3 separate regions of the Homo sapiens genome follow, and regions 2 and 3 are each reported to be linked to region 1. The links are microRNA targets in miRTarBase. Many come from high-throughput screens and were not tested one by one. Region 1 holds a microRNA gene; each other region holds the end of a gene's coding sequence.

Region 1 (4,577 bases):
GCAACTTCCGGTGCGCTTAGCGTTACTTCCGGCGCGCGGCGGGCGGAAGTCCGGGTTGGGGTCACCTGACCGGAGAGCCGGCTAGATATGGCGTCCTCTTTGCTTGCGGGCGAGCGATTGGTGCGTGCTTTGGGCCCCGGCGGGGAGCTGGAGCCAGAGCGGCTACCCCGAAAGCTGCGGGCCGAGCTTGAGGCCGCGCTGGGGAAGAAGCACAAGGGCGGTGATAGCTCCAGTGGCCCCCAACGCTTGGTTTCTTTCCGTCTCATCCGGGATCTGCACCAGCATCTGAGAGAAAGGGGTGAGCCCCAGTCTCCAGTCCGGGGTCCCCTCCTTGTGTCCAGATCGATTCCCTCCTGAGGTCTTTTCCCATCATTCCCCTTCTTCTACGGAGCACTCATCTAGACAAGTCAAGAGTCACTCCATAAATCCCAGGGCCACCCACTTTCTTAACTCCCATGGGAATTTCTCGTGGATGACAAATTTGCTTGTGCAGTTTCTGCTCTTTTGAGAGCCCCCTCTTCACTTCCAGGCACACCTAGGCCCAATTCACCCTTGAGAAAGTCTAGGTTTTTACCAAATACAAATATCACAGGTTTTGTCTCTTCTTTTTCTCCACTTTAGGAATCAGCTTAGCATAGTGAGCTTGTAGGAATCCGGATTTCTTTCCACCTCAAAAGCAAGAGTGGTGAAATCTGATACTTTGTTTTGTTTGTTTGTTTTTTTAATATAGGATGGCAAAAGCTGTGTTGAAAGATCTGGCCTGAGAGTAGCATGTGAGTTCCAGTCCTAGCTCTGTCACTAATCCTTTGAAGGAGTCATTTCTCCTCGCTGGGCCTCAGTTCCCTTATGTGTAAAGGGAAGGAACAGGACAAACTAGCACATAAGGTATTTTGCCAGAAGTAACATAGACCAGCCAGAAGTGCAAAGGGTAGACTGCTCAATTATTAGAACTAGAAAGGACCTTAGAAAGAGATTGCCTAGTATTAGTGTCCTCTGAGCATTTAGCATCACTATGACCTAAACTTATTTAGGGAAGAGCTGTTGTGGCCACAGAACTGATCTAACCCAAAGGCACAAGTAAATGGCTTACTTGTTAGTTATAACACTGGCAGGATAATTGAGAGCTGACAGCTAAAGTCACCTGCGCAGCACTGGGAGATACCTACATGGAATTATCCAAAATTCTTTTCAATTGAAAATGATCCTGGAAATGGATTAATGTAGAGATGGCCCTGTTTTATTTTGGTAGAAAGAAGGGCTACACCCCTCTTGATCTTAACCCTTCAACCTCAGCTCGTGGATCATTGTGTTTGTGAAACCTTTTCTTCTCAGATTCCAAACTATACCTCCATGAGCTCCTAGAAGGCAGTGAAATCTATCTCCCAGAGGTTGTGAAGCCTCCACGGGTATGTAAGGGATATGTTTGTGAGAGTGGTTATTGACTGAGTTGGGCTTATCCATGATACACTGAACTTATAAATCAACTTTTAGGCTTGAAAAATTGTTTTTGAAATCTTTGGGATCTGGGGGAGCCAGATATTGTCCTCCCCATCAGCTGTTTGGAAAATTGAGATCAAAAAAAAAAAAAACAGTTTCAAAGCACTGGAGTTACGACTAGTATGTGGGTCTCCTGATACCTTTAGCAGTGCTTTACCCCTGGAACCAATGATTGTGATGTGCTTTCTAACAAGCTGGGAATATCATTCTTCTCATTTGATTTTTCTGCTTCAGAACCCAGAACTAGTTGCCCGGCTGGAGAAGATTAAGATACAGCTGGCCAATGAGGAATATAAACGGATCACCCGCAACGTCACTTGTCAGGTAAGGACATGCTCTTCAGTACGTGGTCTAGGTAGCCCCTCAGAGTAGGGCCCTGCAGTGGAAGAAGATACAGAGTTTAGAAAAAACATGGAAACTTGGTTTCTATACTGTTCAGGGACCATAGGAAGTCTGCATACAAACAACACAGTTCCCATCTCATTCACTGAGACTCTGGGCTGAGATGGTGACCAAGTTTTAAACGTCATAGAAGTGGGAGTTAGCCGGGCACGGCGCTCATGCCTGTAATCCTAGCACTTTGGGAGGCTGAGGTAGGTGGATCACTTGAGGTCGGGAGTTCGTGACCAGCCTGGCCAACATGGTGAAACCCCGTCTTTACAAAAAATACAAAACTTAGCCTGGCGTGGTGGCGGGCACCTGTAATCCCAGCTACTCGAGAGGCTGAGGCAGGAGAATCACTTGAACCCAGGAGGCGGAGGCAGAGGCTGCTGTGAGCCAACACTGCACCATTGCACTCCAGCCTGAGCAACAAGAGCAAGACTCCATCTCAAAATAAATAAATAAATAAATAAATAAGTGGGAATGAATCTTGGAGGCTTTTTTTCTTCTTCTTTTTTTTTTTTGAGATGGAGTCTCACTCTGTCACCCAGGCTGGAGGGCAGTGGCAGGATCTCTGCTCACTGCGGCCTCCGCCTTCCAGGTTTAAGTGATTCTTATGCCTCAGCCTCCCAAGTAGCTGGGATTACAGGCATGCACCACCACGCCAGGCTAATTTTTTGTATTTTTAGTAGAGACCACGTTGGCCAGGCTGGTCTTGAACTCCCAGCCTCAAGGTGATCCTCCTGCCTCGGCCTCCCAAAGTGCTGGGATTACAAGGTGAGCCACTGTGCCCAGCCATTCGAGCATTTCTTCTGACAGGGCTCCCTACTACTCTATGGCATGCTCCTACCCTGGAACAGGAGAGTAGATGGGTACTGGCAGCCTATGTCCTCTCTCCGAAATGCCTGCTCTGTAGTCCAGAAAAGAGTCAAAATGGTTCCAGACAAAAGAATCCATGGGGAGGGCAGAGTTAATATGTTGGGGAATAGAGAGGGCTGAGCCAGACTGTCAATGGATGCTCTCTGAGCTGCTTCTATTCTGAATCATCTTCTTTTTCTTTTTCCCAGGATACAAGACATGGTGGGACTCTCAGCGACCTGGGAAAGCAAGGTGAGGTACTAGGAGATCAGGCTTCTAAAACCTTTTCCTGAGATGGGTCATGACACTCAGGCTTGTTGTTTGACTGAAACCCAGTTGGTGGGGGAGCCATGAGATAAGAGCACCTCCTAGAGAATGTTGAACTAAAGGTGCCCTCTCTGGCTCCTCCCCAAAGTGAGATCATTGAAGGCTCTGGTCATCACCATCTTCAATTTCATTGTCACGGTGGTTGCTGCCTTCGTCTGCACTTACCTTGGAAGCCAATATATCTTCACAGAAATGGCCTCGGTGAGTAGGCACTGGGCAGGGCAGGGTGCCCCTGGTGGGGGTGTTAGTGGGTAAGGGAGGACGTATGTGAAAGTGCCTTGCACAGGTTAGGTATTGAACAGATATTTATGCCATTAATAAGGGGAGCATTAGAGCTTTCCAGCAGTCACGGGAGGTTAGGTAATAACCCCAGGAGAAGCCACATTCTCTTTTCTTCCCCTCCCCCAACTTAGAGGGTGGTTGGGGGGCTCTCCATCCTCATTAAAGTTGCTGGGGTACAGAGCTGGTTGTTGGCCTGCATCCCTTAAGCCTGGTTCTCCCCATCTCCAGCGGGTGCTAGCTGCATTGATCGTCGCCTCTGTGGTGGGTCTGGCCGAGCTGTATGTCATGGTGCGGGCAATGGAAGGCGAGCTGGGAGAACTGTAACTGGTGCTTCATCATCAAGTCTAGAGAAGACTTTGGGGGCTTCAGGCTCCAATTGGCAGTCACCGACTCAGTCAACCCATCAGACTTTTTGTATTCAGCTCCAGTTAGTCAGAAGACCAGCCCAGGCCAGCTGCTGTTTCTGTGGGGAGCCCTAATCTTCTGTGAATTTCCAAAGGGAGCATTGGAGGAGATTGAGATAACACATCTTTAAAACAGAAAGAACTGGTCTTGGTCTATCAGTACCTCTTCCTGAATCTGGTACCCATCTGCCTTCTCCAGTTCATTCTAAACACTGCTGGGACTAGGGTTTTTCCATCAGGAGCAAATGGAATCCAGGCCTTCCCAGAAGTAGACCATACTGCCTTGAACTTGTCCATATGTACAAACTGATCACCAGCTTTCTCCATACATTTTTAATGCAGACCTGTAATTGAGTTCAGAAGCCTCCAAGAAAACAGAAAGGATCCCCTTTCTCCAGTTTGTGCTGGAAGAGGAGCTGATCAGAGACATCAAATAAGAGAAAGATGGGTTGCTAGAGGATGGTAGAACTGGAAGCAAGGCAGCTACCTTTTTGCAAAAGGAAATGGTGTTAGGCCCCTTTTCCAGAAGATAAGACAGACTCATAGAGATTAAATGATCACTATGGTCCTTCTTCTGTTAAATGGAGCCAAAGACGCCTATGTTGTTCTGAAGTCTTGTAATGTTTAACTTCTGAGAACTTAGATTAGTGGTGTGATGATAGAGTCTGTATAACGCATTGAAAAGGGTATCAGGCTTAGTTATTTATCCAATAAATATTTATTGTATGCAGGGTATTCCTATTTTAACTCCTGTGACAACACAAAGCATAGCGATTTCCATAGTTCTAACTGTTCAGGGTCTGCTCCTCCTGGTACACTCTTTTTGGT
Region 2 (4,239 bases), not on the chromosome of region 1:
GAGCCCACACTGGTTGGAGCCTGCTTAGCTCAGTGAGCCTTGATTGGTTAGGAAAAAGAAAAAGCAATTTAATGTTACTATGTTTCATATTTGGAAACCAAGATGGGGAAGGTTAGAAAAATGCAGAAGCTAGTGATTCACAAACAAGGAGGTGTACATAATAGACTTTCTTGAGGAACAGGGAGCTCTGTTTTTATTAAAAGGGGTGGGAGTTTTATTTGGAGACTTCTTTGGTTTTGTTTTGTAAAAGCAAAATGGTATCTAATAGGTAGGACCTTTTTCATGAGCCCCCTGATGCAGACCCTCAAGTTTGTTTTCTCTCACAGATCACAGCCAGGAACATTCCTGGGGCCCCCTGAATCTAGAAGCAGCAAGTTCAAGAAGGTTTTAGGCAAAAGGAAGGGCCCAGAGTGCTGCACCTTCCAGAACATTCCAGAACCTTCCTGAACATTCCATGTACCTTCAAGCAAAAGGGGTTAATGATTTTTCAAACCATCCAACTGTAAGCCTTTCCATGGCCCACCCAGAACTGGGCCCACTCCACTCTGGTGGTGTCCATCCTCACCTGCCTCCGATCATTTTCAGGCTGGAGCTGAACACAGAGGGGTCTCACTCCCTGCCCCTCTAAAGAAGAATCAGCTCTGTGCAAGACAAGGTGTGTGGGAGGCCTTCTGAAGGACCCCATCTGGTTCCCATGGTAACACTTCTTCCTAGTCCCTCTCTTGTCCATGTCTCAACTTTCTCTGCTTCTTACCTACCCTGAGGAGGGGAGGCTCAACCTGGTAGCTGCTGCCTTCTAAAGGCTGCTCCCCAATTCATGATAGTGGAGAAAGGTCCAGACCTGCCCAACCTTTGCCCCTTTTTACCTTTTGGTTGCAAACTCTACACCATGTCAATCATGAAGGAGAGCCAAAAAAAAAAAAAAAAAAGTGGGGACCGGGCACTGTGGCTTACACCTGTGATCCCAGCACTTTGGGAGGCTGAGGCGGGCGGATCACGAGGTCAGGAGATGGAGACCATCCTGGCTAACATGGTGAAACCCCGTCTCTACTAAAAATACAAAAATAATTATAATTAGCCAGGCATGGTGGCAGGCGCCTGTAGTCCCAGCTACTCAGGAGGCTGAGGCAGGAGAATGGCATGGACCCAGGAGGTGGAGCCTGCAGTGAGCCGAGATCACGCCACTGCACTCCAGCCTGGGCGACACAGCGAGACTCCGTCTCAAAAAAAAAAAAAAAAAAAAAAAAGCCAGGTGCGGTGGCTCACGCCTGTAATCCCAGCACTTTGGGAGGCCAAGGCGGGCAGATCACCTGAGGTCAGGAGTTTGAGACCAGCCTGACCAACATGGAGAAACCCCGTCTCTACTAAAAATACAAAATTAGCCGGGCTTGGTGACACATGCCTGTAATACCAGCTACTCGGGAGTGTGAGGCAGGAGAATGGCTTAAACGTGGGAGGCAGAGGTTCCAGTGAGCCGAGATCGCTCCATTGCACTCCAGCCTGGGTGAGAAAAGCGAAACTCCATCTCAAAAAAAAACAAAAAGCAAAAAAAAACAAAAAACAGCAGGGAACCATGCATTTTCAGAAAAATGGGACAAAGGTACTTTTTCGTGGGAATGGACTGCTTTGCACCCTGGAAGCTTGGACCAGGAATGGGAAGCCAGGGCAGGAGGGGCCCATCCTGCCCCAGACTGTGCTGAGAAGGAGAGCATGGGGGAGAGGTCTTCCAAGGCTGCTCAGTCTTTGGTCATATCAGCAGGAACTCAGCGGTTCTGGTGTCCCTTGGCCTCCAGCAGCTGAAGTGCCAGCAGTGAAGAGAGTAGAACCAAGACCAAGGTGGGATGGAGGTTCTAAAGTGGGCACTCTCAGTGCTTAAACTGTGCCTGTACTAGGGGGACACTCTGACTGTCTAGGCCTGAGGCTCTAAAGCTCCCACAGCCCAATCCCTCTAGCTACAGCCGACATCTCTAAAAAGCCCATCAAGCAGTTGCTGCCCCCACATCGTCAGGGATGGGGACCATCCACCTCACAGAACACCCCTAACTTTTTTTTTGGGTGGGGGGACGGAGTTTCACTTTTGTCGCCCAGGCTGGAGTGCAGTGGCGTGATCTTGGCCCACTGCAACCTCTGCCTCCCGGGTTCAAGCAATTCTCCTGCCTCAGCCTCCTGAGTAGCTGGGATTACAAGTCCCTACCACCATGCGTGGCTAATTTTTGTATTTTTAGTAGAGATGAGTTTTCGCCATGTTGGCCAGGCTGGTCTTGAACTGCTGACCTCAGGTGATCCACCCACCTTGGCCTCCCAAAGTGCTGGGATTACAGGCATGAGCCACCGCTCCTGGCCTCATCCCTAATTTAAGAGCCTCAAACGGAGCCAAAATCCGGCCCCTTACGGTTTCCACCAATTGGTCTTAGCTTTGACCTGTGGTTCCCACCCACTGGTCTTGGCTTTAACCTCTGGTTCTAGGTGACCCAACCCTTTAGAGATTCAAAGGCTGAACATCACACACAAACACATTTGAAACAGATCCCTCAACTGTTCCTCACTGACTGTTCTTTCTCATCCTTGTTTCTCCAAAGGTGCCATTTGGGGCGGGTGGGGGGAGGGGACCCTCTTCCAGTAAAAAACTTAAGTGAAAAGCAAAGCTACCCCAACACCTTCCTCTTTCCAGATAGTTATGTCCTTATTAACATGGACCAACACCATATTAGCTTTGTAGGCTTCCACAACACTGTGACTGTCCCCTTTTGTTTGCAAGAACTTCCACGCCTCCCTGCCAAACTGCATCTCATTGGACTTGACCTAAGCTGACCCAGGGTATATCCCACCTCCTTGTTCCACAATCATCAGCCAAACTGGCACCTAGCATTCCCCCTGGCTGAGGACAGATGCCATCAGTCCTGCAAAATGCCCTCCATCACTCCGTGGGGACCGTCATTTGGCAGGCCAGAGAAGACCAGGTACCATCCCGATTGGGCTTATGGGCAACCCAGGAAAAGATGCGTACAGGTGAGGCAATTGGAGAACCAAGATGGAGCAGTGAGCGCTTCTGACTGGAAATGCCGGGAAGTTAAGATTTAGGAAAGGCTCTCAACGGGTTGGTAATCAGAGAAGGCTTCATGGAAGAGGCAGCGGCGGTGTTGGACCCGGACAGCTGGGCTTTGCATGGGCAGAAAGGAGGGGAGAGCATCTCAAAAGTAGGAAGTGGAAGCACAGGAGCTGAGCTGTGGAGGCTGCAACAGCAGAGAGGAGTCGGGCAGCATCGTCATCCTCATCATCACATTTATTGACGGCCCCTAAGAGGCGGGGCTGGGGACAGAACGTACAAAGACAAGGACCTGCCCTCAAAAAGCTTCCATTCTAAGGAGACAGGGACAGAAAAATACAGAATGGTCTTTCCTGGGTATGGCCCACTCTCACCTGCACAGGTCAGAAGCCCCTGGCCTACCTTGCCCCAGGGTCTGGAGCATGTGTGGACACGTAGTAGCCCCAGGGCCATGGTGTCCCTGGCCCCACAGCCGAGGCCTGATCACCTGGCTCCTAGGCTGTGGGCCCCAGAATTTGGGGGAAAGGTAGGCTCAGGACATGATGTAAAACACTCCTGGCGGCCTTGGCGTTGTGCGAGCCCAGTGGAGTGGTGGGGTGCGACAGGTCCCCTTGGCAAGGCCCCTAGGGGACCCAGGCATCTTCCCAGGCCCCTGTAGTTGAGTCAAGTTCTTTAACGGGGCTGGTCCATCACCCTAGAGGCCCCGGGGCACGGAAACAAAAAAGGCAGGGTGTCTTCAGCGCCAGAGGCATAAAGCCCTGCCCACCCACCCCCAGCCCCCTCTCGGGCCTCTTCCAGGGGACCCTCCTCCCCAGCTCAGCCTCCAGGGCCAGGGCCTGCCTGAGGCCAGGGGGAGGGGCCTGCCCCTCCCCCCACCCAGGCAGTGGGGGAGGAGGAGGAGCCACGCATCAAGTTTGTCTAGGCCCCCCAACTGGGGGGCCGCACCGTGGATCCTACCGGTGGGGGGGCTCTGGCTGCGAGGGCCGAGGGCTCAGCAGGGGGGCCGGGCCGAGGGGGCACCCGGGGGAGCCCTTCAGTGGGGGCACTGGGCGGGAGTCCAAGGGGGGCAGGCTCCGGGGCACTGCTGGTGGCCCCCGGGCGGCCCCAGTGGGCAGGACAGCTGCAGCCGGGAAGGATTTGGGGGGATCAGCAGCCGAGGTGGGGGCCGGCTGGGCAGAACGCTCCCGACGCCG
Region 3 (4,239 bases), not on the chromosome of region 1:
TCTATGAAAACATAAATGTATTATGTACTGCAGAGTTTTTGGAGCTCACTAAAGATTAAAATAATAGGGCTTGATAAACTTGTGGAGTTTTGGTCTCCTAGTAGGCACTCTATAAATGTTTGTTGAATGAATGAATGGACAAATGAATCACATTTCCATTGTCCATGTGGTTGTGGTGTTGTGTGAAAGCAGCTTCTCAATGTGGTGCATATTTTCATGATATCATATAAAGGCCTAACTGAGAACTGCTCTGCTTTTCAGAATTCTTTGGTGATCTGGACACGCTGATGGGGCCTCTGACCCAGCACAGCAGCATGACCAATCTTGTCCGCTACGTTCGCCAAGGACTGTGTTGGCTGCGCATCGATGCCCACTTGTTGTAGTGGGTGTTCTCAGATCTCTAGCATCACGACCCATCACTCTACCTCTACCAGCGCACTGATGGTCACTGGTGGAACTCCACTCACTGGGGAACGTTCTCTTTGGTTATGTTTGTTTTTATGCTTCTTTTGTTATCTGTAAAAAACAGAAGTCATTGTAAGTTGACACTACAACTTAAGGGCAGTGTACGTTTTATTACTTAGTCATTTTTTTTCTTTTAGCATTTGATATGCATTTCTCAGATTCCACCATCTTTTTGTGCTTTATGGAATGACAGTCCCTACAATATTGTTTTAAGCCCACACTACCCAAAACAAAGAATGGGAAGCACTTGTGATAAAGACAGGCTCCTGAGAAATGCAACAAGTGGTCTTACATATACATGAGAACTTAGACACAAGGGACCATCCCCCAAACTCTACTCTTATACCCAGAAAAGAACATATTTCAGAATCTGTCAAACTTTTGTGTATCCCACAGATTCAATCTTCAGGTGAGAATTTTCATTGTCAAAACCCACTGGTTAGATGTTGTAGCAACATCATAAAATCAAGAGTATCAAGAAAATAAATGAGCATAGCAATGCTACTCTTAAAAAGATGCTATGCCACACAACCAGAGGACTTTCTTGTTAGCATCCCTTTCCTGATTCCCTATTTTGTTAATTTTAATGATAAGAAGAAAGGGTGACATTTATTTTGACAAGTTTTAGGCATCAGCTGGCATCAGTGTTTTTCAACTCCATTATTTGAAGTGTAAATCCTCACCTGGGGTTCTCTGTGTGCAAAGCTGTCCTTTTGAAGAACAGTTTGGTTGATGCATGCCTTAGTAGCCAAAATGCTACACTCTAGACTTACAAGTGGGAGTTAAGAGAGGTCTGGAAAGTGTCCAACAAGGAATTCACACCTCTGCCTCCTTTGCAACAACAACATTTACACAGTTGGTAAGTGGGTCCATAACTGGCAGGATTTTTAAATTGTATTTTGCTCAAATCTATGGGAACAAAAGTCAAGGTATCACTACCTAGAAGTAATGATATACAGTTTTCTTCCTAGTGGCTTGAAAATCTGGACTTCCTCAATTATTATTCACATTTTCTCTCTTATAGGTTTTCTGTTTTCTACTTTCTTTTTTCTCTTATCTGTGTTTCCCTTTCCTTTGTTTGGCTCATTAACTTTTGACTGAATTACAATTACTCCTTTTATTAAAGTCCATATTATTGTGAATCATTTCCATGAAAATTTCTAAGAAAACTCCAAACTCTCTAAATAGTAGCTAACTTTTATTTTTTTAAAATGAGTCGTGGGGTAGTGCTTCACCTTGAGATGCTTTGAAAGAGCCCTAAACATTGGGAACCATTCACCTAATTTGGAGACATTTCTCACTGGTTGTGACTACCCCCTTATGATCCTTCACATTCATTTTATGTCCCTAAACATCACAATGTAAATATCATTTTTGATGTTCCAGCTCACCAGAAGATTCTTACACTTGGGGTAAACACTATCCATGCATTACTTACTGGTAATTACCTGCTGGTATATAATTCCATGTAGCCTTTAATATGCTGGGTTATCAAATTCTGTTCACTGAGTTATGACCAGATAAATAATAGATATGCACATGAAAGATGCAAACTTGTGTGATTATTAAAGCCAGCCATGCAGGTCCATGATAGAAACAGCAGGTGATGACTCTGCACTCTCATTGTCAAGGTTAGATATATCCCCAGTTGCAAAACAGCCAGACTTGAGCTGTGCTCTGGTCATCTTTGAGTTTAAGGCCTTTTGTTGTATAAGGCTGTGGAAGTTGTACTCCAATGGCTGAAGCCATGTTGTTAATATGGCTGATGGGAGCATCCCTGCAGCTGAACCCAGCACTTTTTATGCTCCCACTGTGGTTGAGCTTTATGTTTACAGTCTCAGCAACAACACTTATGCATCCAAACACTCACAAATGAAACCTGAAAGAATCTTTTCTGAGCCTCTTAAAAGAGGAAAATGATGATAACATTAAAGACTCTGAACACCCAAGGTTGGTGTCACATATAAAAATTAAGCTGATGACTTTGCAGTGACTCAAGTTGTCTCTTTATCATGGTTTACCAGGTAGAGTGCCTGGCTATTACTATATAATGAAGCCCACTGGCTTGACTTGTAAGTTCAACCTAAACCACAATCCTAGACCATCATGGATTTAGGAGTAGATTCTTCTTGAAATCCCACATCCAGAAACTAGACATTAGAATGTTGAGGCAGTTTCCCAGAGAAACAAGCATATTGCCTCATGGATGAAAGACTTGTAGTTCTAGTTTCAGTGACTTGTTATATCTACTTACATACAACAGGGAGGCAAGAGGATTCTCTGTCATCTCTGGTGACTGAGTGTAAAATATGTGCCAAGTCTGCAGCACAGTGACCAAATCTGACAATCGAGCTCTGGATCACCACTTGATTATGTAGTAGACTCATTTATAAAGCAGCTTAGGAACTAATTAAACATGGAGGATGAATTACCTTCCTATCCCTTGAGATAAGACATCTTTCAGTTTCATGATTAAGGATTGTTGCTGTTTTATAGTTACTCTGTTCATCACAGTGTAAATGGTGATGCGTGTCGTAGGTGTGCAGCTATTTGAGGGACTAAGGGATGGAGATATTCTGTCAAATGAATCTCTTCAGTATACCAGTTTGTGGGAGGGATATGAGACATGTGGATGGCAGTGAGAGATCGTGCCTCTAGATCTTGATGGAGGCTTGGTGAGACACACTTAAATAAGCACGTGGAGGTTAGAATAGAGGGCAGAGTAAAAGGAAGCTCCATCTGAGCAAGTACACCAAATGATCTCAGCCCTGCAACTTGACCCAGGTAGGGCCACCACTACGCCTTCACTTGTCACCCAAGCTCCAACCACAGAGAGTTTGACAAGTTTGTGTTATGATGTTGGCTTGGCTTTGTATTTTTAATTAACTTTGGATTTTTAGTGGTTTTGTCATATAACTGTCTGAGTTTGGTAGGTAGGATTACTTTGAAAAGGGTTTACTAGTGTGGTCCTCCGGGTAGAATTTAGCTGTAAGCATGTTGTTAGCCAGCCTGTAGACTGTTAATTACTTAATAATCTCATTGGGAAAATACTAGTAGTTTTATATTTGGATGACATAATTGGAAAAGCAGATTAGCTGCTACTACTTTTAAAAGACTTAAGGTCGGGATGCCTTTTTTTCCATGTAAGGAAATGAAAAGACCAAAATCTTCAGGCAAAAAGCAAGTTGCAAAATTAGAAACCATTGGCTAAAAATGTGTTTTGTTGAGTTTCCAAATGGATGAATTTTCATTTGGACATTACATCACTAAATTCATTAGATTTTGTCTGCATTGGAAAGATACTCTTCTAGCATATCTTTCCCAAAGATATCTAATTTGGATTCTGTTTCATGCAAATTTGCATCCCGGAGGTTGAAGTTGGAGTTTGAGGTTGGAAAATATCTTTGAAGGCAGAATCAGTTGAGTTGTGAGGGTGAAGCCTCACATACTTCTCAACAGACATGATAAAATTCACCTGCATGAGTTGGCAGGTGGGAGAACCAAACTGGATCACTGGGTAAGACTACTCAGTAAAGCAATGAACTGCTTGCTTAGAGAAGCATCACTATCCCCATTGAGAAAAATGTGTGGCAAGATGATACAGCTACACAGTATCAAATGAATGGGTCAATTCAGCACCCCCAAATTTAATTCTGTGGGGAAAAATTATTGAGCCAGTTGTCAGTGTTCTGTTACATGACTGGCAGACTAAATTCTTCATCGTTGTTGTTATTGTTGTTGTTGTTTCTCATTTTCACTCGCACGGCCTTATTC

What was found. Region 1 holds the annotated microRNA hsa-miR-4723-5p (UGGGGGAGCCAUGAGAUAAGAGCA, at 3,077-3,100, shown strand). A microRNA usually pairs through its seed, bases 2 to 8, with sites in the 3' UTR of a target mRNA and lowers its output. Matches are read on the target gene's strand: a 7mer-m8 pairs with bases 2 to 8, a 7mer-A1 pairs with bases 2 to 7 and ends in A, and an 8mer does both.
Region 2: the mRNA of VPS37D is a reported target of hsa-miR-4723-5p. Seed matches in the 3' UTR shown: 8mer at 3,931-3,938, 7mer-m8 at 3,896-3,902 and 7mer-A1 at 3,563-3,569.
Region 3: miRTarBase lists AFF2 as a target of hsa-miR-4723-5p. Seed matches in the 3' UTR shown: 7mer-A1 at 789-795.

Annotation. Positions count from the first base shown.
Region 1 is chr17:28,357,584-28,362,160 of GRCh38, forward strand. It overlaps MIR4723 (microRNA 4723), which reads left to right and starts at 3,071; the gene lies at 3,071-3,151. It overlaps VMA12 (vacuolar ATPase assembly factor VMA12), which reads left to right and starts at 64. Exons shown (of 6, transcript NM_152464.3): 1 at 64-298; 2 at 1,333-1,406; 3 at 1,732-1,821; 4 at 2,946-2,988; 5 at 3,152-3,264; 6 at 3,574-4,577. The coding sequence starts at 88. The coding sequence ends at 3,669. RefSeq lists enhancers at 1-109, 222-321 and a silencer at 1-31.
Region 2 is chr7:73,671,137-73,675,375 of GRCh38, reverse strand. VPS37D (VPS37D subunit of ESCRT-I) reads right to left here. Exons shown (of 4, transcript NM_001077621.2): 4 at 3,266-4,239. The coding sequence ends at 4,000. Among named protein-coding and RNA genes, the nearest start is that of VPS37D, 5.4 kb to the right of the region's middle.
Region 3 is chrX:148,990,950-148,995,188 of GRCh38, forward strand. AFF2 (ALF transcription elongation factor 2) reads left to right here. Exons shown (of 21, transcript NM_002025.4): 21 at 262-4,239. The coding sequence ends at 383. Among named protein-coding and RNA genes, the nearest start is that of AFF2, 490 kb to the left of the region's middle.